Homo sapiens: one gene and its partners. The protein of the gene in region 1 interacts with the protein of each later gene in a pairwise test. Each region holds a gene or a part of one and is shown in the gene's direction. Other genes may lie near its edges.

Region 1 (7,027 bases):
ACAGCCAATAAGCTGAGAGACAAGGTGTTGGGGCAAGGAAGGCGACTTTTTTCCGAGAGCCAGCAAGTCAAGAAGATGGTGGACTAGTGTCCTGAAGAACCATCTTAAGTTAATAGAACTTGAGACTTCTTTTATGTTAAGGGAAGGGGAAAGAAAGGCGGAGGTGAGATCAGGAGGAGACCGATGAGCACAGACATCTGGATGGCAGCGAGGGTCCAAGGGGATTGTGAAACTTCTCTGTCCTTGGTCAGGCCATGATGCTCCTCCTATAAGTCTTCAACATAACATTGTTATTTGTGTGTACTCCCTCTTTATCTCCTTGGGGGTTAGTTTTGGGAACGGACCACTGTCATCCTTGCTTTAAACTATAAATTCTTCCCATAGTTCACTCGGCCTATACGATACCACTATGGGGATGTTAAGGGAGAATGGAGGCAGTAATGCTGAGCCGCCTCCTCGCTGTTACAGCTGTTCATTTTTCTACCCAGATGGAAAAATCAGTTTGAGACAGAAAGCAGGTTTGAAAATATGGCTTTTTCCTTCTTTGCTGGGTTCCTGATACTTCCTTTTCTTAATTTTCCTTTTCAGTTTTCCTTTTCACAAATTTTTTGTTTTTAACCAATCAGTAATTTATTTGTATCTCAAGTCTTCCAATATAAGTATGTTTCTGTTTTTATTAAGTACTCTGACTCTTAAAGCAAGCTAGTTCTTTTGAATCTACTTCTTTAAACTTTAGAGACCTCCTAGTCAGTGACTTACGTCTATAAATTGAGATTTAGTGCCTTTAATGATTCAGATCTGTATCAAAAAGTCTTAGCCCCTTTTACAGTTTTTTGTTTTTTAACATTACATTTATCCTTATTTTAGAATTATTGAGCTATTTACTGGTTCTTATGGTTTATATAAGCTGATTTAAGGTTAATTTACTTAAAAACCACAATTTTGTGAAGTAAAACTTAACTGACAAGTGTGTTTTTTTCCTCCAAGTCTTATCTGTTCTGTAAAGTGTCCATCTCTGTTATAGTAAGTAAAACCAGTGTTTATATCCGTGTTAAGGTTCTACAAAATGACACTTTAACCTGGACCACAGTATCTGCATTTACTTCAGTAGAGTACCTAGAGGAACGTTTTGGAGATGAGTGTGTGAAAACAAAATGTGGCAGTGGAAACGCCAGCTGTTGCTGACGTCGTGCTGATCACAGTCAAGTGTTGCCCGGCGCCCTTAGGGTTCCGAGAGGTGTGGGTTGAGAAGCTCCACTAGGCTGGACATTTTCTTGTTCCTTTCTAGTAGGCGTTCTGTGATGTTCGTGCCCCATTTCTCCATCCCTGGTTTAGGAGTTGAGAGCTGGAGGTGAATCCTGTAGTGTTGGGTTAGGGTTGTTAGTTTGCAGGTAGTTGGTTGCTCCTGTGTCCTTATTTTCACTCCATGTAAGGAAAAGTCGTTTGAGATCATCTAGCCCAGGGCCTCGTTTTACAGAAGCCCAGAGGGTTTAATTCAGTTGACGGAGTTCGCAGCTGATAAAAGGTATAGCACAAATTGAAACTGGTTTTTTGAGTCCTGGTCTAATTTAGCTGTTCTACTTCAGCTGCCATAGTATTACCCAGTGAGTGAGATATGGGCCCTTCCCAGATAACCCTGAGGTGGTATTAAGAATCTCTTTGGGGCCGGGCGCAGCGGCTCACGCCTGTAATCCCAGCACTGTGGGAGGTCAGGGCAGTGGATCACAAGGTCAGGAGTTCAAGACCAGCCTGGCCAAAATGGTGAAACCCCCATCTCTACTAAAAATACAAAAAAATTAGCTGGGTGTGGTGGTGGGTGCCTGTAATCCCAGCTACTTGGGAGGCTGTGGCAGAGAACTGCTTGAACCAGGGAGGTGGAAGTTGCAGTGAGCCACGATCGCGCCACTGTACTCCAGCTTGGGCACAGAGCAAGACTCTGTCTCAAAAAAAAAAAACTATTTGGGATTAACCTTGAGGTCCCCCTGAAGAAAAACTTCGTTGCAGAAGAAAAACTTTGTTGCAAAAGAAAAGCTGCAAGAGTACTGACCCTGAAGGGACCCAGTTGCTTCCTTTTAGTTTCTGGTTTCTGTTTCCTTTTTTTTTTTGAGACAGAGTCTCACTCTCTCGCCCAGGCTGGAGTGCAGTGGCGCGATCTCCGCTCACTGTAAGCTCCACCTCCTGGGTTCACACCATTCTCCTGCCTCAGCCTCCTGAGTAGCTGGGATTACAGGTGCCCGCCATCACGCCTGGCTAATTTTTGTATTTTTAGTAGAGACAGGGTTTCACCATGTTGACCAGGCTGGTCTTGAACTCCTGAGCTCAAATGATCTGCCCGCCTCGGCTTCCCAGCCCTGTTTTCCTTTCTTAATATGTCCCATTATCTGTTTATTCAAGCTAGATGAACCTGCACCCTCTGAGCCCTCCTAGGGGTTCTTAACTTCGTGTCCATGTAGTTGTATTTGAGGCAGGGAGAGGCTGAACCATGGACACAACTCATCTTTTTTTAGATTTATCTATTTTTAAGCAAAGGGGTCTCACTATGTTGGCCGGGTTGGATTCAAACCCGGGCTCAAGCGATACTCGTATGTCAGCCTCCCGAGTAGCTGGAACTATAGGCACACACCACTGCGCCCAGCAACACCACTGATGTTATATACACAATTTTGGGCCATGTTTTTCCTGGAGAAAGAGCCCCTTGAGATGCTGTGGAGGGGATTGAGATGCTGTGGAGGGGGTGGAGGTGGTGTGGAGGGGAGGGGGTGGTGGTGGTGTGGAGGGGAGGGGGTGGTGGTGGTGTGGAGGGGAGGGGGTGGAGGTGGTGTGGAGGGGGTGGAGGTGGTGTGGAGGGGGTGGAGATGGCGTGGAGGGGGTGGAGATGGCGTGGAGGGGGTCATTCCCTCGTTTCCCTCGTTGTAGGGCCACATAGAGAGGGTGTTTTTAAGTCTGATTTAATGATACTAAATAATTTACTGAATGTCTTCATTCTCTAGCATTTCGTGTTATGTTCATTGTTTCCAGCTCACGAGTGGACTCTTGTCTTTCAGGGCATGAAAATCAACATGGACAAGAATCGGAGGCGAAAGCCAGCAAGCGACTCCGTGAGCCACTGGATGGAGATGGACATGAAAGCGCAGAGCCGTATGCAAAGCACATGAAGCCGAGCGTGGAGCCGGCGCCTCCAGTTAGCAGAGACACGTTTTCCTACATGGGTACATCTTCCTTGGGTTTTCAGATTTTAATACCACAGTCAGGAAAATGTTATGTGTAAAAGGTGTTTCCCACTTGATGGGGGGAGTTTGAGCTGGTGTTTATCATCTTCATTCTTATGTGTAAAGATTATTTAGAAATCACTAAGGCCATTATTTATAATCAAGTAGTGCAGAATTAAACTTTTGGATGTTCTTAGGAAAACCCTTACATGTAAATGAACAACTGTAATCTTTTGAAATACTAGTATTCCCTGTGCATGCAGTACTTAACGTTAAGATGAAATGCGAAGACTCCAGCTTTTTCAAATAACACCTCACACGCAGCTGCTTGTTATAATTGATTAGCACCAGCATTTTAACCTTTCATATTCAATCTTTGGAAAACAAGAGATTCTATTTTATCCTGAGAAGCAAGGTAGTAGTGAACTTTTCTGCTACCTTTCACTCCAGGAATCAGTTATGTATTTAGTGACTCACAGAATAGAATTCTCCTTTGTGTCTTTTACACATATGAGCAGAAAGTAGAAATAAGCATTAAAAAATATAAATCAGTATATTTATAGGTTCTAATTTAATTCAAGGGAAACCAGTAGAAAATGTTTTGCCAAGCTGTATTATTTATAGATATGTTTTGCAGTTACGTAAAAAAAGATCAAACAAGTATTCTTTATTTGGTGATTTACTAGTAGGAATTGAAGCAAAGATTTGTGGAGTTGCAGGGAGATGAGCCGTTTCCAGACACTGACCATTGCTGGAGGCTTGGTGGCCTGGAACATGGCGGATAGCAGGTGCTGGCTCCTGAGACAGTTCAGTGGCTGGGTGGGAAGCTTGTAGTCATGCTGATACAGTTAAGTTCCAGCTGAACGGAGGAGCCCTGCCCAACACCCACACTCCCCTTGGCTCTCAGCCCCGCTCCTGTGAGGAGCACATCCCCATCTTTGCCCCTTCGCCACTGCTGAGCTCAGTCTGCCGTCCTTCGGACAAGTACTTCCACTTCCTGCGCGTACCACCTCTATTTGCCCTCTCGCCCAGCTCTTTTAACACTGTGCAACCTGACCTCTGATCCCACCACACTACTGAAGTGTCCTGGTCACCAGTGGCCTGAGAATGCCCCCGTCAGTCCTTTTTTACCTTGTTCTTTACAGCCTTTGTGTGTCAATCATACCCTCTATCTAGAGGGAAAGAAGCAAAGACGGGAACCACACTTAACTAGCAGCAAATATGCCAGGGAAGAAATTAGACCAGCACTGGTCAGGAGACTGGGCCCTCTGGCAGGCAGGGTCACCGTCATGCTGAGGCGCTGCTCGTCTCTGGAGGATGGCTCCCTGGGAGTGAAGGTGACCCTGCCGTGGAGACAGCGCCATTGTCCTCTGAACCCACAGTGTGGGATGTGAACAGTAGTTTTTACTGCAGCAGGCTCTAGTTTTACAAGGTGATTGCCTTCACCCCGAACTTGCCTGGCCTGCAAGATCAAAATGTAAGTGGATTCCAAGCATAAATGTTAGGTGCCCCCTTGTAAGGAATGGAGCATGTTTTCCTAGAGAGAAAACGTCTGCAGCGTTGTAAAATACCCTCTCGGTTTAAAATGCTAAGTCGACCTAGTGGATTTTTGAGGTGAATTTCAGTTTTTAGTAAGGTCAGCCCAGCAGCATGTACTTCCTTTTCCCACAGGAGACTTCGTCGTCGTCTACACTGATGGCTGCTGCTCCAGTAATGGGCGTAGAAGGCCGCGAGCAGGAATCGGCGTTTACTGGGGGCCAGGCCATCCTTTGTAAGTTAAACGAAGCTGAGTTTTACTGAATCATGTTCCACAACTTGTGAAAAGATGAGGCGGGATCTGCTCATTGTTTGATTATTGGGAAAACCTGCAGATAAGTAGCTCTGGCAGGGGTGGCAGAGGAGCAGCTTTGGTTCGTGTTGGGGCTAAGCGGCATTGCTTTTCAGAACGTGAGGTACCTCAGCTTTACTTCCTTTGCTTTTTTTTTTTTTTTTTTTTTTTTTAAGACACGGTCTCACACTGTTGCCCAGGATGGAGTACAGTGGCACAAACACAGCTCACTGCAGACTTCACCTTCTGGGCTCAAGCGATCCTCCCACCTTGGCCTCCCAAACTGTTGGGATTATGGGTGTGAGCCACTGCACCTGGCTTTGGTGTTTCTTTCTTGCCCTGGGGAGGAGTCTTTTTTTTTTTTTTTCCTGAGACGGAGTCTCACTCTATCGCCCAGGCTAGAGTGCAGTGGCGCGATCTCGGCTCACTGCAAGCTCCACTTCCCAGGTTCACGCCATTCTCCTTCCTCACCCTCCCGAGTAGCTGGGACTACAGGCACCTGCCACCAGGCCCAGCTAATTTTTTGTATTTTTAGTAGAGACGGGGTTTCACCGTGTTAGCCAGGATGGTCTCGATCTTCTGACCTCGTGATCCGCCCACCTCGGCCTCCCAAGAGGAGTCCTTTTTTCAGTAGAGATGAAGTCTCACTATGTTGCCCAGGCTGGGCTCAAATTTCTGGGCTCATGCGATCCTCCCACCTTGTCCTCCCAAAGTGCCGAGATCACAGGTGTGAGCCACCACCCCTGGCCCAAAAATTGCTCATTCTTTTAGGAAACTCTGGATCTCCTGGTGACCCCAAATTTTAAATAACTTGTCTAAGGGTTTTTCTGGTTCCTTGATTTCATTTTCCTCTTTTACTTCCTGGAGGTTTTTAGTAGTTTCAATCTGAAGTCTCACTCTCTCCATTCTTCTTCCCGAGTTTTCTCCTGGGATTCTTTCTGCTGCAGCCATAGGGCCTAACCCAGGGTCCGCAGAGAACCAGCTTTTACTTCCTTTGCCCTAGTGGAACCCATGAGAGTCAGAAGGTGCCCAAGTGTGGAAACCTGTGTGCTGCTCTCTGCTGGGAGTCTGTTAGTTTGATTTTTATATGATGCTTTTATATTTCAAATAAGAATACACACTAGTTTATCGTTATCCATTAAGAAGAATCACTTTGAGAATTCACTTTATACTTTTATTTTCTTTTGTACTGTTTTGAAACAGAAATGTAGGCATTAGACTTCCTGGGCGGCAGACAAACCAAAGAGCGGAAATTCATGTAAGTTATCAGATACGTTTAAGCCTCTCTTTTTTGAGCATTGAGTATGAAATTATCAAATAAACTAATTCTTTTTTTTTCTACCTATACATATAAGATATTTGAAGAGAGACGGGTTTAATAACAATTTTGAAAAATAGGAATTTTGTAGAAAAATTCTAAAAACTTATTTCAAATAGATGTCTACACAGGAGAATTGTATGTATAGTAGTGTTTCATACAGAGAATATAATCAGTACAGAGGGGATGTTTCAATTTCGAAGTACTTTTGAACTTTAGTAATGTCAGAGTTGAACATTTTCTGTAGCATGACTATCGACTTGTCTTTTCAAGGCAGCCTGCAAAGCCATTGAACAAGCAAAGACTCAAAACATCAATAAACTGGTTCTGTATACAGACAGTATGTTTACGATAAATGGTAAGCTTTCACATTTGATTTCTTCTGTTTTTCCAGTAACTGTGAAGGGAAATTGGTAGGAGGTGTTGTAACAGGGCAGGACCCAAATGGGAACGGGGGGATGACATTGGTTTGTCAGGTACCGAGCAAAGAGTGAGGATTTTGGAGTCTCCCTTCTGCTGCTCTGATGTTTTCCACATGCTTATTTCTTTGCCAGGCACTGGAGATGCAGTCAGAAGTGGAAGTGGCTCTTACTTCTAGTCTGTGTGTGTATAAGTCACTTAAGATGGCGTGTTGACTGCTTCTTTGGGAAATGCCCTGAATAGGAGCATGTA
Region 2 (7,115 bases), on another chromosome or scaffold:
ATTTGGGGGTGATGAAAATGTTTTGAAGGCCCAGCGTGGTGGCTCATGCCTGTAATCCCAGCACTTTGGGAGGCTGGGGCAGGTGGATCACTTGAGGTCAGGAGTTCGAGACTAGCTGGACCAACATGGTGAAACCCTGTCACTACTAAAAATACAAAATTAGCCAGGCGTGGTGGCACATGCCTGTAATCCCAGCTACTTGGGAGGCTGAGCAGGAGAATTGCTTGAACCTGGGTGGCAGAGGTTGCAGTGAGCGGAGATCAGCCATTGCACTCCAGCATGGGCAATAAGAGCAAAGCTCCATCTCAAAAAAAAAATGTTTTGAAATTAGATAGAGGTGGTGGTTGTACCTATTACTAATATACTAATGTACTAAATACCATTATATTATTCTCTTTAAAGTGGTTAGGCTAGGCCGGGTGTGGTGGCTCACGCCTGTAATCCCAGCACTGTGGGAGGCCAAGGTGGGTGGATCACCTGAGGTCAGGAGTTTGATTGAGACTAGCCTGGCCAACATGGTGAAACCCTATCTCTATTAAAAATACAAAAATTGGCCAGATGTGGTGGTGGGCGCCTGTAATCCCAGCTACTTGGGAGGCTGAGGCAGGAGAATCACATGAACCCAAGAGGCGGAGGTTGCAGTGAGCCAAGATCGCGCCATTGCACTCCAGCCTGGGCAATAAGAGCGAAACTCTGTCTCAAAAATAAATAAATAAATAAATACAATAAAGTGGTTAGGCAAGGCATGGTGGCACCCTGGGAGGCTAAGGCAGCAGGATCACTTGAGCCAAGGAGTTTGAGACCAACCTGGGTATCATAGTGAGACCCCATCACTACAAAAAATAAAAAGTTAGCTGAATGTGGTGGCGCATGCCTGTAGTCCCAACTACTCAGGAGGCTGAGGCAAGAGGACCATTTGCCCAGAAGTTCGAGGTTGCAGTGAGCTGTGATCATACCACTGCACTCCAGCCTGGACCGCAACTCAAAAAAAAAAAAAGGTTAATTTTATGTTGCATGAATTTCAATTTTTAAAAAATAGTTGATTACTTATGTACACTTTTCTGCATGTAAGTAATACTTAAGTTTGGAAAACTTTGGTGTAGTAGAAATAGCATGAGATTTGCCAAGCATTTTGCTGGCTATTAAACATATCTAATCTCATAATATACATTAAGCACAGCCATTGTGGGGGTGGCAGACAGTATGACCCAGATAAATATTAGTCCCCTTGCACAACTCAAAGCTTTCATACTCTAAAATTGTCCATGTCCCGGAGGCCCTGATTTCTTTCTTTCCATTTTTTTTTTTTTTTTTTTGAGACAGAGTTTCACTCTTGTTGCCCAGGCTGGGTTCAATGGCGTGATCTCGGCTCACTGCAGCCTCCGCCTCTCGGGTTCAAGTGATTCTCCTGCCTCAGCTTTCTGAGTAGCTGGGATTACAGGCATGCACCACCACGCCCAGCTAATTTTGTATTTTTGGTAGAGACAGGGTTTCTCCATGTTGGTCAGGCTGGTCTCGAACTCCCGACCTCAGGTGATCCACCCACCTTGGCCTCGCAAAGTGCTGGGATTACAGGCGTGAGCCACTGCACCCGGCTCCTTTTTTTTTTGTTGTTGTTGTTGAGATGGAGTCTTGTTCTGTTGCCCAGGCTGGAGTGCAGTGGCGCGATCTCGGCTTACTGCAACCTCCGCCTCCCAGGTTCAAGCAATTCTCCTGCCTCAGCCTCCCAAGTAGTTGGGACTACAGGTGTGTGCCACCACACCCGGCTAATTTTTGTATTTTTAGTAGAGACGGGGTTTCGCCATGTTGGTCAGGCTGGTCTCTAACCCCTGACCTCGTGATCCACCCACCTAGGCCTCCCATAGTGCTGGGATAACAGGCATGAGCCACCGCGCCCAGCTCCTTTTTTTTTTTTTTTGAGACGGAGTCTCACTCTGTCACCCAGGCTGGAGTCCAGTGGCGAGATCTCAGCTTATCGCAACCTCCACCTCCCGGGTTCAAGCGATTCTCCTGCCTCAGCCTCCCGAGAAGCTGGGATTACAGGCTCCTGCCACCACACCTGGCTAATTTTTGTCTTTTAAGTGGAGACGAGGTTTCACCATGTTGGCCAGGCTGGTCTCAAACTCCTGACCTCAGATGATCCAACTGCCTCGGCCTCCCAAGTGCTGGGATTACAGCTGTGAGCCACTGCGCCCAGCCAGAGACCTTGATTTCTTACCATACCTGCTGTCTGTAGAGCACCATGTAGCACTCAGCTACACTCCCTCTTCATGAGTGGTACTATTTAAATGCCTCAGGTTAAACATCTAGAGATTAGGGATCTTTTCTTACACTTCCTTGTATTTTATTTATTTATTTTTTTGTTTGAGACAGAATCTTGCTCCATCACCCAGTGGATTCTCCTGCCTCAGCCTCCCAAGTAGCTGGGATTACAGGCGCATACCACCACACCCAGCTAATTTTTAAAATTTTTTAGTAGAAATGGGGTTTCACCACGTTGGCCATTCTGGTCTCCAGCTTCTGGTCTAAAGTGATCCACCCACCTCAGCCTCCCGAATTGCTGGGATTACAGGCGTGAGCCACCGAGTCTGGCCTCTTACACTTCCAATGAACCCCATAGCTTGTAGCACATTGCTTTGTGTGGTAAGTGTCTCTATTCATGGTCCTAGCAGGAAATGAATAGCACAGTGAAATTAGGATAATTTGGGGGAGAGTTTAATAAAGTGATAATTACAAAGAAGTAGGCAGGGTGTAGGGAAATCAGAAAGAATAGTGCAGTGCCTTAGTACCCACAGCTCTGTTGTGATCACCTCCAAGCTCAAAAAGATGAGGACAGAGCAGTCGTGTAGAGAGGACTTTCTTTTTTTTTTTTTCTTTTCTTTTTTTTTTTTTTTTTTTTTGAGATGGAGTCTTGCTCTGTCGCCCAGGCTGGAGTGCAGTGGCGCGATCTCGGCTCACTGCAAGCTCTGCCTCCCGGGTTCACGCCATTCTTCTGCCTCAGCCTCCTGAGCAGCTGTGACTACAAGCGCCCGCCACCGCGCCCGGCTAATTTTTTTTGTATTTTTAGTAGAGACGGGGTTTCACCGTGGTCTCGATCTCCTGACCTCGTGATCCACCCGCCTCGGCCTCCCAAACTGCTGGGATTACAGGCGTGAGCCACCGCGCCCGGCGAGAGGACTTTCTCAATAAAAACTGTGACTTTCATTGATACCGTCCATTTGGGACAACTTACTGAAGCAGAAAGCAGGGTGGAGACTGAATTCAAGGGAAAACATAAGATGTCTGGTACAGCATACAACAGCATTGATTCAGAGGAGGGTGGGAGTACTGAGCCCAGGAGACGGAGAAGGAATGTAAAGCCTGCGAGAGGCTGCTCAGCAATTATCTGGTCCCTTAGCCTACAGGATTAGCAGCTTCCTAACTCAGGCAATTATCTCTCTGGACCTGTTTCTTCTATCTATAAGTTGATGGAATTAGTCTAATGATATCTAAGGTCCCTACTATGTGTACGTCTACTGTGACAAGGTCCTTAGCTGCATGATCTTTAATTCTGACAAAGGTTACTATCACAAATATTTTAACATGTTTATTCTCGTGGTTACTAATCAACAATCTCTGGCACTATTACAACAAACCTTTCAGTATTTACAGAGAAGTTATTTGCCATTCTTAGCAACTGGCCAGTCAACAACTCAACTTTATAGTAAGTTACAGAATTTATTCTGTATATTGTATTCTGTACAATGTATTCCATACATTAATTTATTTTGTGGTAAAACAGTAACTTTTCATTTTAGATGGGAAAACTAGACGAGCTGAGATTCAACCCACGTGAGCGGCTGCAGAGCCGCTACCCTTAACAGCTCTCTCTCGGGATTCTAACATTCCCTTCTGTGACGGAGAGACAGCAGGCCGGGACACGCATCCCAGGACGGATCCACAGCTGGATGGGGAAGGCTGCGCCAGGCGGGCCGGAAGCCTGGCGGTGGCGTGCAGGAGCCCCGCCCTCCTGGGCTGGATTCAGCCGGGGGCGGGGCCGCGGGCGGGGCCTGTGGCAGCGGGAATCCCGACCCCGCCCCTTTCCCCACCCCTCCATTTCTCGCCATGGCCCCTGCACTGCTCCTGATCCCTGCTGCCCTCGCCTCTTTCATCCTGGCCTTTGGCACCGGAGTGGAGTTCGTGCGCTTTACCTCCCTTCGGCCACTTCTTGGAGGGATCCCGGAGTCTGGTGGTCCGGGTGAGCGGGAGGGATCGAGGATGAACTGGGAGGAGGAAGGTGGAGCCGTAGGAGAGGGATTGAGGGCGGGGCTTGGAAACAAATGACAGGGGAAGTCCAAGAGAGGGAACTCGAACCTTGAAAGCGGCCGAGAAGCTACAGGGGAGGGAGACCTGAGTTCTAAATTAGGAACTCAAGGATTAGAGTTTTGGAGAGGCGGGAGAGTGAGGACTGAGGGAGCCGAAAAGGGCGGTGACCGGAGTATTCTAAGTAAAGTGTTTTGTAGAGAGGACTGTTGAGAGGAGAGTGTTAAAAAGAAGGAGCATTTGGAGAACCGAAGTAAGAGGGGCAATCCAGCGTGGCCTCTCCAGCCATGCTTTTTGCAACTGCCTAACATGTGGTGTTCTATAAATCCTCTTCCCCAGGTTTGCAGGAGGCCTAGGGAAGAGGGCAGAAACTAGGGATGGAAAAGTGAGATGGGCACAGCCTAGAGAGGAAGCATTAAGGCTCTTGAAAGCAGTAAGGGACATGGCCTGGGGATCCAAGAGGAGATGAGGGTGGGGGAAACATTCTGCCACTGTTTCGATCTTTTGTCTCTTTTTCCCTCAACTTCCTGTAGATGCCCGCCAGGGATGGCTGGCTGCCCTGCAGGACCGCAGCATCCTTGCCCCCCTGGCATGGGATCTGGGGCTCCTGCTTCTATTTGTTGGGCAGCACAGCCTCATGGCAGCTGAAAGAGTGAAGGCATGGACATCCCGGTACTTTGGGGTCCTTCAGAGGTCACTGTATGTGGCCTGCACTGCCCTGGCCTTGCAGGTATGAGGCCCTGGCCTTGCAGGTATGAAATCCTGGCAGTTGAGTCCCCAAGGGAGACCAAGTGTGGGAGGGGTGCCGTGGATTGGAGGGGCAAAATATGGGTTCAGGAGGAGAATTGAGGAACTAATCTCAGCTTCCATTCCTCCACAGCACATATCCTACTTTTTATCAAGAAGGGTGTACTTGTCCTTCCCTAAGCACAAGATATGCTTCTCACCTCTGCAACTTTGTTTATGTCCTGCTTGAGATCCCTTCTCTTCAGTCCTACCCTTTCTTCAAAACCACTTCCCTAGGTCTGAAGAGAAGGCCTTGTCTGTCTTTTCACTGGGTGGTTGGCACAGGCTACTACTTTGCGTAGCTATCAGGTCACCCCATCTATTCTATAAGTTCTCAGGGTAGAGACAGGCCATCCTTACATCTTTGGGACCTCACCCAGCACGCACCCTCCACATGGTGAATATTTGGTGGTGATGCTTAGGAGAGAGGTGGGGGAGAGTTGCAGGCTAGCCTGTGGTGGGGGCAGATCTGGGTCTGGGTCTCCCAAGGTCGGGCAGACTAGGCCACTGGGATACCCAGCCCCTTATCCTTCCACAGCTGGTGATGCGGTACTGGGAGCCCATACCCAAAGGCCCTGTGTTGTGGGAGGCTCGGGCTGAGCCATGGGCCACCTGGGTGCCGCTCCTCTGCTTTGTGCTCCATGTCATCTCCTGGCTCCTCATCTTTAGCATCCTTCTCGTCTTTGACTATGCTGAGCTCATGGGCCTCAAACAGGTGAGGCTCCGAGATCCCTACCTATGACCTCTGACCCATTTTAGAACTCCTCGTTCCCTTTCAAGGGTTTCCCTCCTCCCATGCTCTTCTACTGTCTCCCTGCTTCTCCCTCGTGGCCCTTCCCTTTGACTTTCCCTCGTAAGGGCAGCAAGCATGGGCCTCCTGGGCCTGGGGAAGGTACATGGATCAGAAGTCAGGATCAGGGATCCAAGTCTCAGAAGGGGGGTTCCTGGGCCTGAGTTCTAGAAGGGTGGTGCCTGGAAGAGGAGGAAAGAAGTGCCCAAGATGAGAAAAGGGCTTGACTCCATTTCTAAGCTCTTCTCCCTCTCTTAGGTATACTACCATGTGCTGGGGCTGGGCGAGCCTCTGGCCCTGAAGTCTCCCCGGGCTCTCAGACTCTTCTCCCACCTGCGCCACCCAGTGTGTGTGGAGCTGCTGACAGTGCTGTGGGTGGTGCCTACCCTGGGCACGGACCGTCTCCTCCTTGCTTTCCTCCTTACCCTCTACCTGGGCCTGGCTCACGGGCTTGATCAGCAAGACCTCCGCTACCTCCGGGCCCAGCTACAAAGAAAACTCCACCTGCTCTCTCGGCCCCAGGATGGGGAGGCAGAGTGAGGAGCTCACTCTGGTTACAAGCCCTGTTCTTCCTCTCCCACTGAATTCTAAATCCTTAACATCCAGGCCCTGGCTGCTTCATGCCAGAGGCCCAAATCCATGGACTGAAGGAGATGCCCCTTCTACTACTTGAGACTTTATTCTCTGGGTCCAGCTCCATACCCTAAATTCTGAGTTTCAGCCACTGAACTCCAAGGTCCACTTCTCACCAGCAAGGAAGAGTGGGGTATGGAAGTCATCTGTCCCTTCACTGTTTAGAGCATGACACTCTCCCCCTCAACAGCCTCCTGAGAAGGAAAGGATCTGCCCTGACCACTCCCCTGGCACTGTTACTTGCCTCTGCGCCTCAGGGGTCCCCTTCTGCACCGCTGGCTTCCACTCCAAGAAGGTGGACCAGGGTCTGCAAGTTCAACGGTCATAGCTGTCCCTCCAGGCCCCAACCTTGCCTCACCACTCCCGGCCCTAGTCTCTGCACCTCCTTAGGCCCTGCCTCTGGGCTCAGACCCCAACCTAGTCAAGGGGATTCTCCTGCTCTTAACTCGATGACTTGGGGCTCCCTGCTCTCCCGAGGAAGATGCTCTGCAGGAAAATAAAAGTCAGCCTTTTTCTACATATGGCATGCAGTCTGTCAGTGTCTCCCAAGCTACAGGGCTGAGTTTGGGAAAGAAAGCCAGAGGGAGCCTGGGAGCACCGAACT
Region 3 (7,027 bases), on another chromosome or scaffold:
AGAACTAACTCACTATCATGAGAACAGGATGGGGAAAACCACCCCCATGATTCAGTTATCTCCACCTGGTCCCTCCCATGACACATGGGGATTATGGGAACTATAATTCAAGATGAGATTTGGGTGGGGATGCAGCCAAACCATATCACTAGGGATGAGAAAATGACGTGTGAGGACACAAGAAGAAGGTGGCCACCTAGGAGCCAAGAAAAGAGGCCTCAGGAGAAACCAAGCCTGGCCACACCTTAATTTTGGACTTTCAGCCTCCAGAACTGTGAGAAAATACACTTCTGTTGTTTAAGCCACTCAGTCTGTGGTATTTGCTTGTGGCAGCCCTAGCGAACTGATACAGTATCCAAGTAGTTTCATTAGGACTGAACTATGTTTTTTTAAAGGACTGGCTTTTTAGAGTTGAAGGAAAAAACCAGAATCAGCAAATATAAATAATGATTTTGTTCCCCAAAAATAACTTTTTAAATTGTTATGTGAATATTATGGAACGTCTATTTTGCTCTTATCTTAATAAGTGCCACCAACAGTGATTAAAATATGCCACACATGTGCAGTCATTTTTTTCTTCCAGAGCCCATGGGAAAGGTGCTAACTGACCCCAACAGCCTTTCTGAATAAGCTGAGGCTGAACCTCTAAGTCCTTCTCAACGCAGTGTTCTAGGTGGCTGCTAGCAACTGATCAGAATTGTCATGCAAGATGGAACCTGTTGTTGCCCCAGAAGCAGAGCCTTGAAATTTATAAAAGATACAACCCAGGATATCAGTTCCATGAATAGCCCTCACAAAGTATATTCATGTGTAAGAAGTGATAAATTTAAATGATTCTTCCAGATTTGCATTGGCTGTTAGATCTCTTTCTAGAGCTATTTTCCCAAAGAAGCAAGGTTTATTACTTCTTGAGGGTTAGTTTAACGCTGGTGAGAAATAATCAAACGACAACAAAGCCACAGTGAGTTGCAGATGCTGGGCATTCCTCTTCAGGCTGAGTTAACTGGTTTGCTCCTGCACAGCTGCCTTCTAACTTACAATGCAACAAAATGAGAAATTATGCTTTAAAGCATAGGCTTTGGAAACCAACAATCCTAGGTTAGAGTCCTGGATGCACCGCTTGTTAGCTGTGTGATGTGTGCATGTCCCTGAATCTCTGAGCTTCAAATCCCTCATCTGAAAAATGGCAAATAGTGCCTCAAGTATGGGGTTGTTACTAGGATCAGTGAGCACTAGATGAAAGACTTGGCACAGTTATCCAATATATGATAGTAATATTATATTTTTATGGTCTAACAATAGCACATGATGTAATAACAGTAGTGGAGAGGTGGTCTCTGGTCTGGTTAAGAGCATGAACACTGGGTCCAGTCTGGCTGAATTGAAATTCCTGCTCTGCTGTTCGCTATGTGACCCCTCTGTGGCTCAATTGCCTTTCTATAAAATACAACACTAATTGAGCCTTCTTATGACATGTTGTAGACATCAAATGAGGCACTCTCATCATGCAGAGTGGTTCCTGGCCTGTCGTGAGCATCAAGGAACTGCCGTTGCATTCCTTGGACCCTCATGATCAGACGTGAAGAGTTAAAATGACCAGTGACAGTGCATGAATGCCCAGAGTCTACTGCACAGAGAATCTGGGTTTACAGACCAGAAAGATAAATGTGTCTAAAGAGCTAGAGGTGTTCTCTAATTCCTTGAAAATCTCAGGGACACAACCCATTTGGTTACCCATTCATCACCTGTCATTCAGGTAAGGCACATCTGTTCTCCAGGTAGCACATGCTCAGCCACCTGGTGCTTGTGAGAACTCCAGGCCACCTATGGTTGTTCCCCAAGCCACCAGTTTCACTTAACTGCTGCCTGGACAGCACAGAGCTCAGAATTGGGGACTCCTGCCAAGCAGCCCCAGGCCCTGCATACCAGAAGACTTGGAAAGCCCAGGCTCAAAAACACTTTACGGTGACTCGTAGGTTTATGTAATATTCACCCAAACTGACATTTATTGTTCATTTGGGGAACTCCATTAATAACTAAAAATAGCAATTAACATTTTATTCAATTAAGAGCCAAAAAGGTTACTTAGAAAAAGCTAAGTTGTTTTCTAAAACATTGAGCTCCATTTGATTGGGGTGAATACCTTTTAGTTGCGTTTTTTGTAACTCTTATTTTATTCTCAGTATGTGATTATCTTAGGACACAATTAACATTAATTAAATAAAATTAAACTCAGCTTTAGATGTAGCAGTCTCTTTTAGGAATCTTGAATAGGGAATTAAAATGTCTCTGACTTTTAAAAATCCCATTGTTTTACTCCCCCGTTAGAGCAGATGACATTGTGTACATTCTGAGCACATCTTCCCTAATAAGCAGGGGCTTTATAGAGTGTAAAGAAATTTGCATAGTTCAGGATACTTAAATGACATGTCCCAGAATCTGTGCTCTTGACAGTTAATCATAGAATATGTCCCCTCTCAAAGACGCCTTCTTCATTTAAATCCTATTCTTTATCATCATATAAAGGATGATCTGGATATGGAAAAGACATTGAAGTCCAATAAAAATAGTGTTTTGGCAACTAATATAGTCCTAGAAATGCATTTCTAAGTTAGAAATATAATATAAGCTATTTTCCTTCTTTAGGGGATGTATTAGTTTCCTGTGGCTGGTGTAACAAATTACCACAAAACTTAATAGCTTAAAACACAGACACATTTATTATCTTATAGTTCTAGAGGTCAGAAGTCTACAATAGATCACACTGAGCTAAAATACAAGTGTCACCAGGGCTGTATTCCCTCTGGAGTCTCCAGCTTCTAGAGGCTGCCCACATTCCCCGGCTTGTGGCCCCCTTCCATCTTCAGAGCCAGCAGTGGCCAGTCAAGTCTTTCTCATACTGTATCACTCTGACACTTACTCATCTGCCTCCTCCCACATTTAAGGATGCTGTGATTACCTTGGGCCCATCCAGGTAATCTTGGATAATCTCCCTATTTTAATGTGAGCTGATAAGAAATCTCAGTGCCACTTACAGCCTTAATTCCCTCTTGCATGAAAGACAACATATTCACAGGTTATGGGATGAGGGTATGGACATCTTTTGGGAGCTAACTATTATTTTTCCTGTCACAGGGGAAAAAATAAGTACAGTTGGCCTTTGAACAACGTGAATTTGAATGTTATGGGTCCGCTTATGTAAGAATTTTTGTCAATATATTGGAAATTTTTTTGAGATTTGTGGCAATCTGAAAAAAATTTGCAGATGAACCTTATAGCCTGGAAATATTTTTTAAAATTAAGAAAAATTAGGTATGTCATGAATGCATGAAATATATATAGGTACTAATCTATTGTATCATTTACTATATATATACAAATCTATTATAAAGAAATAAAATTTATCAACATATGCATGGAAGCACTTACAGACCATACATAGCACCATTCATAGTCAAGAGAAATGTAAACAAACATGAAGATGCAGTGTTAAATCATAACTCCATTAAATTAACTGTAGTACAGATTATACTACTGTAATAATTTCATAGCTGCTTCCTGTTGCTATTCGGCAAGCTCAAGTGTTTTCAGTATCTGCTTAAAATACCATGTGATACTGTCGTCTCCATGTGAGCAGTTCCTCTCTCTGGTAAATTGCATATCACGGTGAAAAGTGGTCTCTTATGGTTCTTGTGTATTTTTCCTTGTGTTTAATGCAATGCTGCAAACCTCGAATAACACCATGGGACCTATACAAAGAGCAACTAATGATGATGGACACGCTGCCAAGAAGCAGAGAAAAGTCATGACCCTACAAGAAAAAGTTGAATTGATTGATATGTACTGTAGATTAAGGTCTGTACCTGTAGTTGCAGGCCATTTCAGACATTCAATTCATCTTGTAAACAGATGATGTAAACTTATGGTATCGATAAAATACCGTACAGTACTGTAAAAGTATTTTCTCTTCCTTATTATTTTCTTAATACCATTTTCTTTTTTTCAGCTTACTTTAGTGTAAGACTATAGTATAGAATACATATAACATACAAAATATGTTAATCAACTATTTATGATATAGGGTAAGGCTTCCAGTCAACAGTAGGCTATTAGTTGTTAAGTTTTTGGGGAGTCAAAACTTAACATGCATGGAGGATCGAAGCCCCTAATCCCTGTGTTATTCAAGGTCAAAGGCCTTTAACCTGTGTCTTGTCTGTTAGACATTCTTAGTCAAATAGTCCAACACCGAGTGAAGAATTTGGATCCCTGCTCTGCCAGTCACTACCTATTGGAGCAAGACACGTCTTCTTTATTGATAAATTTTTATTTATTTCCAATAAGCCTTTTGCATTCCTACTTCATCTTCTCATGTTTACTCAATCTTCTCATTCCTGCAGTGAGGATGACATATAGCTCTCACCTCATCTAAATGGGATAAGTTTAAGCTTTACTGTGATTTGTTTCCAACAATTATGTTATTTATTCTAGGAAGAAGAAATGAAAATGCCTGCAAAGGAGCTCCTAAAACCTGTACCTTACTAGAAAAGTTCCCCGAGACAACAGGATGCAGAAGAGGACAGGTACCAAGAGTGTCGTGCTGGGGAGAATACAATTAATTGTTAGGAATAAGGGCGTGTTGACCTTTACAAAGAAATGGTTGTTTCCTTTGGCCCAATGAATGCCTCTTTTTACATGCCCTTTTTACTGAAACATAATTTTATGTGGTTGACGTCAGAATTGAGGGTGGAAAATGTTCAGTGTTTATAGCTTTGTGGAAAATGTGAGTGCTTATTTTTAGTTCCTTCACAAAGAAATAAGACTTGAATATAAATATTAAATCTTACAAAGGCTCTAATCCAAACTGACAGTAATTTTGTACTGTCACCTTAACTTAGCAGTTCCTCCACACCTTGATAAATGGCTGAATGGAGTGTCATGTTTTCTATGCAGATCAAATATTCCATCATGCACCCCGGGACTCACGTGTGGCCGCACACAGGGCCCACAAACTGCAGGCTCCGAATGCACCTGGGCTTGGTGATTCCCAAGGAAGGCTGCAAGATTCGATGTGCCAACGAGACCAAGTATGGGTCCTCTGTTATCCGTCATATCCGTCACCTCAGAGGATGAGAGTTTGTTACAACACAGTTGTGTTCCTTTGGATTACTTATCTTCTTTTGTAGCTGAAGTAGACTGGAGCAAAGTGATATTAATCCAAACTCTTAAGTCTATATCCCTTCTTGGTGCTTTCTATTAGCCTGGAGACATTGCCCAGCTCTAGGGCTGCCCTCCTCCATTATTTCTCGGCAGAGTACTTATCTAGTTGAGGAGCTGCCTTGTTTCTCTCTCTGGGTAGACAGATGTGCATTCAGAGTCAGCCAACATGCATTGAGCCCTGCAGATGTTATGCATTGTGCTTCCTGCTTTGCAACTTGACTTATTCATGACTACAAGAAGTACCCCTAACTGAAGAACTCACCCCATGATATTTATACGTTTTGATATAGAGGAGATGGTATGGTGCAATGGAAGCTGGCTGCCTTTTTCAAATCCCAGCTCTAACACCTAACCTGTGTAACCTTGGCTAGTTACTTAATCCCTTCAAACATCAGCCTTCTTGCTTATAAAATTGGCAGTGATAACATCTACTTTGCAGGGTTGTTGTATGGATTAACTGGAATAATGCCTATAAGGTGCTCAGTCCATGTTCTGGTATCAGTCGGGACGTGATGAATGTTAGATCTCCTCTCCCTCCCTTGCGTGTTACTTTCCTAATCCTGACATGTTTATTCATGATCTTTTGAACAAACCATACTTGCTCTGGCTTCTGTACCTATGATGCTGATAATCTCTGTCCCTAGAATGCCCGTCTTTTCACCTGTCCAAAATAAACCTATTACTAAGATCCAATTTAGTTTTATAAAAATAGAACCTCTCAGAGTATATATCCTCAGTAATCCCATTCCTATCTTCTATTACTCTTTATTCATTAATATATATTACCCTTATCTCCATAGCAAGCTGTATGTAAGCTCCTGGAGATCAGAAAGCAAGTTATTGTTGTCTTACACATTTCTTATTGTTCTTAGTAGAGGTCTGAGTGGAGGATGAGTGTTCAGGGGTCTGCAGAATTGTCTATTTGATTATTGGCAGATAACTGCCCTGGGCAGCCCATGGTGCTGTGGGAAATTCAGAGATGACTCAGAAGGGGCCGTCCTCTTCTGAGGACACCTAGCAAGGTGTGTCTGCTCAGGAAGATAACACAAGATTGAAGGCCACCGTGGTCATAGAAGAGGTACTACAGATGGCCTCTCTACAGATAAGCTAAAAATACTACAGATGGCTCCATGAGCAGGAGCCTCACCTGCTCACAGACACTCAACTTGCAGAGTGGTGGTTTTTAAAGACAAGAAGGATTCGGACATTGAAAGCTAAAGAGGGGTATTCTGGAACAGTATCCATTAAAGGCACAGAGGCCAAAAATTATGGCCACATATGAAGAATATTGAATAATAATTCAGCAGCCAGCAGTGTATGGTACATAAAGAATAAGGTTGCAAAGTGAAAGAGTCTTTTAGAAACTAAATCATAGGAGGCTTTGAATCCCAAACTAATGGGATCAGACCTTTGTTAGGAAGTTACTGTGGAACCCATGGGTGAATCCTATGGGGACAGTGGGAAGAACAATTAGCAGGCTGTCACAGCAGCCCACCCAAAAGATAAACAGAGCTGGAATTGGGATGCTGGAAAGAAATGGAGACTAGAGAGCAGATGCAAGAGGTGACTCTTGAATGTGTGATACAGGAATGGGGCATCCAAGATGCTGCTGCAATTGCAGTCTTTGGACAGTGGAGGGTGGCGATGCTTGAGCAAACCTTGGGAATTTGGGAGGCATGAGGCAAGTTCAAGGAAAGGAAGATGAATTTAGTGCTTATGTATTTTATTTAGTTGCTATTGGAACACACTTGTAGAACCATCCAGGAGGTGGCTGGAAATAGAGACCTGGCACTCAGGGGAGAAGGTAAGT
Region 4 (7,027 bases), on another chromosome or scaffold:
ATAGTTTATAATGAATGTACAGTGTGAAGTTACTTTCTCACTTTTTCTTAAGTGATATTCATGTTTTATTGTATACTGAATCATTATTTGAACACTTATTTTTGTGGACCTAAATATATTTTAAAAGTGGATACTTGCCAATAGACTCATTCCTTCTAACAAAAGTAATTTTTTTTTTTCAGCAAGATCAGCATTGGACACAGCTGCACGTTGTAAGTATTTCATCTCAATATTTTATGTATGATTTATTCTGCCTTAGGCATATGAGAGCTTATATTCAAAGTGTCAGTAGTTCAGTATGAGGAAAAACTGCTTTAGAAATTGCTTTTTAAAGTTATGAGGATGCTATTTGATTGGACAGCCCAAATATTTTTGGCAATTATTCATGATGGATATTTTGTGTTTTTTAGCTCCGTTATTATAAGTACAGAAATTGGTGTGAGAAGGAGTTAAGAGTGTACATGGGCAAGGTAGTCAATGGAACATTAGGCCTTTTTTAATTATCCTGGAGGTGACGATTTTTTGTGCATATATGGACTAGAAGTGCAAAGTAACATTCAGAACCCCCCACATCCTAAAATTTAAAAATAAACTCATAGTTAGATAAAATATATTTGCCCTAATGCAGATCATATTACTTGACTCATTTGCATCCATTATTAGTTTGTTTCCTAGGAAGATCTGGTGTCTGTTGTGGGTTTCTTTGTTGCTGTTTTTTTTTAAAAAAATTTTTTGAGGTTCTTTGAAACCCTCAGGGGAACAAATTAGCTTGTATTTTAAGATACGTGTATCTTGATGTTTTTCTTAATGCTCTTTGTGGTTTGAGATTTGAAGTAAAGTGAGGTAAAGTCTGTTAACTTGTTTTCTAAAAAAAGACATCATGTTTTCTCCCCCAAAGCTACAAAGCCTCCCAGATATAAGTGTGGGATCTCAAAAGCTTGCCCTGAGAAGCATTTTGCTTTTAAAATGGCAAGTGGAGCAGCCAACGTGGTGGGACCCAAAATCTGCCTGGAAGATAATGTGTAAGTCTTTGTTGACTTGAGACGATAAGGTGTGCTATTAAATTGCAGCCAATTGAACCTGAGTTTAATGGATATTTTGAAAATGTGTTCGGTATACTTTATTAATGGAAAGTGATTTCCATTTTTGTTATGTAGTTTTTTTCTCATGAATTCAAGGGACCTTAAAGTTCTTAAATTTTATATTAGAGAGTGACTAAGAACGTAACACTTATTCGGCTTTATAGAGATAAGAGATTTCCTCTGAGTAAATTCTCTAGATCTGCACTGTCCCATTTGCTAGCAACAGAACACATGTGGCTATTTAATTTTGATCCTTAAATATTAGGAAGAAAGTTAATTCACTTAAATTAACTAAAAAGTTCAGTTCCTTGGTATCTGTCACCGCAGTTCAGGTGTTCAGTGGCCACATGTGGTTCATGGTCACCAAATGGAACAGCAGAGAGAGCATTTTCATCGTGGCAGAAATCCTATTTGCAACATTGCCCTGGACAATGAATGTGTTCTCTTTATTTTAAATGAAATCCAACGTCTTTCATTTAAAATATTTGAGTGCTACTTGTTGAAGTGTGAAATGATCCAGTGATAACCTCAGTTCCATTGCAGCACAAACTGCTTGCCTCTAAGCTGAATGGTTTCCTATGTTGAGATGCTTTCTAAAGGATGGTTTTTAGGATTTTTGATATCCTACCTCAGTGTCAACTGTTGCTCGCAAGTTCCTGCTGCTGAAATTGCAAATCCTACTTTTAGTTGGTTGCTTTTAATATGCTATTGCCTAGAAAACTAGACATGGGGGCTTATTTAAATTTAATATAAAATAATAAATTTGTCACGAATTATATAGAATAAAGAGATAATTTTATAGCAAAGAGGAGACCTAGGCAGCTTTTCCTAGCTGTTTATGTGCCTCTTCTTTTTAATATTGAAGCTCTTAAATTTTTATCCTAGCCTCTTTTGCAGGCAGTTAGCTGTAAGAAGTTTATTGAGCTTCATGGGACAACACTTTTCTTGTAAAATTAAGGGCTTGAGCTAGATGATCATTAAGGTCTGTACTGATTTCCTTTATTTTCCCGTATTCTAATGATGATTTATTGTTAATCCATTTGTCTTCTGATTTCTCATTAGAATAGTCCTGTTTTACTGATGCATAATAAGGCACTTGCATTTTAGAAGTTTGTAGGTTTTTGAAAACATTCTCATTTCCACTCTTTATCTTGTTTGGTTAAATAGACCCCAAATTTGATTCTAAATCACAGGAACAAAGTTCTTTTAGAATACCTAACCCATGGATGATTTTGGACATCTATTCTGCCCCCTTGATGCATGTGAATTTTAGTTCAGAGAAGAAGAGATCAGACTGTTTACTAGCAGGTTTTTTATTCACAGATTAAAACCGTAAACAACAAAACACACTCAGAAAAAAAGCTCAACTGTTTACCCACATCCTGACCCTTATTCACTTCTCTCCAGATCTTCCTGATCTTGGGGCCTTAGAGTATACTCTTCTGTCTAGGATGGTCTTTCCTCACTCTTCACTTGGCTGTCTTCCTTCTTGACCTTTGGTTCTCAGAGTACACATCACTGTCTTAGAAGCTGTTCTCTATCCCTCAGCCTAATGTTGAACAGCTAAAGATCTAAGGTCAGAAAGCGAACAGTGCATAGACAGTGGAGCTTGGTAAAATACATACTGGGCTTAGAGCCAGAGAATTTGCTTCTAGCATGGTGGGCGTGTCATGTAGCATTTGTGTTTCAGTTTCTTTAACCATTAAATGAGGCAGGCCACCTATCCATCCTTATTTCAGGAACCATTCTGCCATTACCATGAGAGATTAAATACTTGGTGGGATTTTATACCCAAGCCTCAGGTTAAAGTCCAAAGAAAGAGTCTTAAGTTTTCTGAGAGTCATTTATTCACCTGTTCAGCAAGTATTTTTGAGCATAATCCCTCCTGTCATGGAACTTACAGTTTAGTAGGGGTGACAGATGCTTAAAAAAAATACGTACTTATAAATTGTGACACCAGGCTGGGCGTGGTGGCTCATGCCTGTAATCCCAGCACTTTGGGAGGTCGAAGCGGGTGGATCACCTGAGGTCAGGAGTCTGAGACCAGCCTGGCCAACATGGTGAAACCCCGTCTTTACTAAAATACAAAAGTTAGCCGGGCGTGGTGGCACATGGGCCTGTAATCCTAGCTACTTGGGAGGCTGAGGCACGAGAATCTCTTGAACCCAGGAGATGGAGGTTGCAGTGGGCCAAGATCGCACCACTGCACTGCAGCCTGGGTGGGCGGCAGAGCGAGACTTTGTCTCAAAAAAAAAAAAAAAAAAAAACAACAACAACAACAAAAAATGAACAAACAAATTGTGATACCAGCCCTGCAGGGCAGCAGGGTGTGATGAGTACTGGCGAGAGTGGATGGAAAGAGGTGTCTAACTTTTAGATTGAGGGTTATGGAACAGTTTCTAAGACAGTGATGTGTATTCTGAGATCTGAGGGATAGAAAGGAAGACCATCCTTGGTCTTCGAGCAGGAGGAAGAAGCCTGCTCGAAGGCCCTAAGATTGGATAGCTCTGGAGAGAAGTGAATTAGGGCCAGGCTGCATAGGAACTTGTAGGCCACGCAGGTAAAGGGTTGAGACTTTTTTCTGAGTGTATTGAGAACTTGTGGAAGGATTTCAAATTCTGGCATGTCGTGATTTTATTTATATTGAAAAAAGTTATCTGGTTGCTGTGTAAAATAATTAAGGAAGTGGAATAGAGAGGACAATTGGAAGGCCATTGCCAGTTACTGCCACAGCACTTTCATACTGCCTCCCTGTTGGTAACAGACTTTATTGCTTATACATTCACTAAAATCTATAAGTAGATAATAAAAATAACACAAGCAGAGAATTTAGTCTTTTCACAGCACCTGCTCTGAGTACATGTAACTCACTTTGGAGACTACTAATCTTGGATCAGTGTGTCTCAATGGGGGCAGTTTTGCTTTCCAGGGAACATTGTAATTTTGGGTTGTCATAGCTTTGGAGGTACTCCTTGTAGAGGCCAGAGATGCTGTTAAACATCTTTCAGTGCATAGGTCAGCTCATCCACAAGAATTATCAGGCTCTTAAAATGAGAGGCTGGGTTTGAGAAACTCTGATACAGACAGGTGATAATTACAATTAGGATGGTGGTCATAAGTAGTTGAAGTCAAAATACATTATGCTGATAAAGATGTGTTTTAAATGTCTCATTAGTTAGAAAATCGCAGGTATGAACCTCAGGTCTCAGGAAAAACAGTAATTGCAGCTTTTTTTTTTCCTTTACTTTTTCTTTTTTCTTTTCTTTTTTACCTAGAGACAGGGTCTCATTCTGTTGCCCAGGCTGGAGTACAGTGACGCAATTTTAGGTCACTGCAACTTTGAATGCCTGGACTCAAGCGATCTTCCCACCTCCACCTCCTGAGTAGCTGGGACTACAGGCGCATACCACCACATGCAGCTAATTTTTCTATTTTTGTGGAAATGGGGTCCCATTGTGTTGCCCAAGGTGGTCTTGAAGTCTTGGGTTCAAGCAGTCTTCCCACCTCAGCCTCCCAAAGTGCTGGGATTACAGGTTTTTTCTTTCTCGTTAGAGCACCCATAGAACTAACTTATGTTCCAATTATAATTTTCATCTAAGGCATATATTCATTTGATTTCAATTTGTATGAATTTGATATTAGGAATAATTCATTACTTTTGATTTTAATGGTAATGTTTGCTGCAAGAATATGAGATTATTTTGAGGGATTTTTTTTTAACAAGGGATCAATGTTTTTGGCTATGAGGGCAAAGAGGTAAAATCAAGGTTATTATGTATGTACTTACATAATCATTTAAAATGTAACCATTTAAAAATGTAAAAACTATTCTAAGCTCATGAGTAGTAAAACAAATCAAAAAACCAGTTGGCAGGATTTGGCTCGTGAGCTATAGTTTGCCAAGCCCTGCTTTAAACTAACCATCTTAAGAGATAATAACTAATAACTAGGACATGAAGTAGCTATTTGAAACAAATCTATATTTGGATATATTGAGTATTTCTACAGATGATATAATCATTTCCTTTAGAATTTTGCCTAGAGATGTGGGAAGGGGTACCTTATATTCATGAAGGATAAAAGAAAATATTTCAACTTGTGTTAGTAAGGGTTACTAACCTTTATACATTTTAAATCTCAGTGGATTTTTTATTTGTTAGAGATTTTCTGTTTGAATTTCAGTTTTTAAAAATTGATAAGCTGCTGCCCTCTTGTGGGAAGCCTATGTCATTGTGCTTCTTTGTTACCTTTATTTCTTTGCTTTATGATAGATTTCAGTCTGTAAAATGCCACATCATACTCCTTGATGATCTTTACTTGGAAAAGTCACTCTGGCACTTAACCCGTTAATCACAGCAGTTACTTCTTAATGATGGAGTTTACTTATTGAATGTATTTCTGAAAGAAACAGAACAGTACATTTTGAAACTTCCTTCTCTTTGATGCAGCTGAGCCAATGGTTAAGTAGTAAAGCATAGAACCTTTTAAATGTATATGCTCCAAGCTAGTACTTTTAAACAGCTTTGAGATATAATTCACATGCCGTCCATTTTGCTCATTTATATTATACAGTCAGTGGTTTATTATATTCACAGATATATGCAATCTCTGCCACAGTCAATTTTAGAAAATTTTTATACCTCAAAAAGAAACCCTGTACCCCTTAGCTAATATCCTTCTATGCCTTTCTTGTCCTGCCCCACTTCCCCACCCCCAAACCCTAAGTTAACCATTAGTTTCCTTTCTGTCTTTATAGATTTGCCTATTTTGGACAGTTCATATAAGTGGTATATAATATTTGGTCTTTTGTGATTGGCTTCTTACCATAATGTTTTCAGGCTTCCTCCATGTTATATCATGTATCAGAACTTCATTCCTTTTATGTCTGAACGATATTCCATTGTATGGATATACCACATTTTGTTTACTCATTCATTAGTTGGTAGACATTTGAGTTGTTTCCACTTTTTAACTATAATGAGTAACATTTACAGAAACATTTATGTACACATTTTATGTGGACATATGTTTTGATTTCTTTATACTCCCAGGGAGTGGATTTTGTTTTAGGTGGTAACTCTGTTTAATTATTTGAGGAACTGCCAGATAGTTTTCCAAAGTGGCTGCATCTGTTTGCATTTCCGCCAGCAGTGTATGAAGGTTCCAATTTCTCCACATCCTTGCCAACACTTGTTATTATCTGACTTACTGATTATAGCCAGCCTAGTAGATGTGAAGTGAAATCTCATTTGCATTTCCCTGATGATTAGTGGTGTCTAGCATGTTTTTGTGTGCTTATTGGCCATTTGTATATCTTCTGTGGAGAAATGTCTGTTGAAACCCTTTGCCCATTGATAAATTGGGTTGTTTCTTTATAATTGAATTGTAATTTCTCTTTTGATTAATGTTTGCATGATATGTCTCTTTCTACCCTTTTACTTTCCACTGCCTATATAATTATATTTAAAGTGAGTTTCTTGTAGACAGTGTGTAGTTGGTTCCTGTTTTAATTCACTTTGCCAATTTCTGTCTTTATTTGGTATGTTGAAACTATTTTCATTTATTATAATTATTAATATATGAGGGTTTAAGTCTATTTTATTATTTGTTTTCATTTTCTCATTTTCCTGCCTTCCTATGAGTTACATAAACATTTTAAAAAAGTGTTTCTTTTGATTTATTTATAGTGTTTTTGAATGTATCTCCCTATAGCTTCTTTAGTGCTTTCTCTCTTTACACAAAAAGTTTGCAGACTCAAGTTCTAGACTTGAGGTGAGGGAGAAAATATTACACAGATTAAATTGAAAAATATGTCCTATCTATATCTATTATATGGTGGATAGCACCAAAAATGTAGGAAGTAGTCTTCCAATATTTAAAACTTATTATCTGATTCAGTCATCATTGACAGGCAAGTGGAATTTGAACATGAATCTCCATTATTT

Evidence for each region.
Region 2: the proteins of RNASEH1 (region 1) and NRM interact in binary tests that used the Homo sapiens proteins (3 or more experiments, as listed by UniProt).
Region 3: the proteins of RNASEH1 (region 1) and ASPH interact in binary tests that used the Homo sapiens proteins (3 or more experiments, as listed by UniProt).
Region 4: the proteins of RNASEH1 (region 1) and FAM3C interact in binary tests that used the Homo sapiens proteins (3 or more experiments, as listed by UniProt).

What each region holds. Positions count from the first base shown.
Region 1 is NC_000002.12:3,548,326-3,555,352, reverse strand, and holds part of RNASEH1 (ribonuclease H1 isoform 1 precursor), read left to right. Parts: intron 1-3,044; coding exon 3,045-3,209; intron 3,210-4,880; coding exon 4,881-4,980; intron 4,981-6,240; coding exon 6,241-6,295; intron 6,296-6,628; coding exon 6,629-6,713; intron 6,714-7,027. UniProt on the Homo sapiens protein: Endonuclease that specifically degrades the RNA of RNA-DNA hybrids.
Region 2 is NC_000006.12:30,687,964-30,695,078, reverse strand, and holds NRM (nurim), read left to right. Parts: upstream 1-4,094; 5' UTR 4,095-4,104; coding exon 4,105-4,237; intron 4,238-4,248; exon of another isoform or gene 4,249-4,735; intron 4,736-4,835; coding exon 4,836-5,032; coding exon of another isoform or gene 5,033-5,054; intron 5,055-5,608; coding exon of another isoform or gene 5,609-5,626; coding exon 5,627-5,803; intron 5,804-6,136; coding exon 6,137-6,418; 3' UTR 6,419-7,030; downstream 7,031-7,115.
Region 3 is NC_000008.11:61,515,585-61,522,611, reverse strand, and holds part of ASPH (aspartyl/asparaginyl beta-hydroxylase), read left to right. Parts: intron 1-4,488; coding exon 4,489-4,580; intron 4,581-4,950; coding exon 4,951-5,084; intron 5,085-7,027.
Region 4 is NC_000007.14:121,365,295-121,372,321, reverse strand, and holds part of FAM3C (protein FAM3C precursor), read left to right. Parts: intron 1-182; coding exon 183-212; intron 213-898; coding exon 899-1,022; intron 1,023-7,027. UniProt on the Homo sapiens protein: May be involved in retinal laminar formation. Promotes epithelial to mesenchymal transition.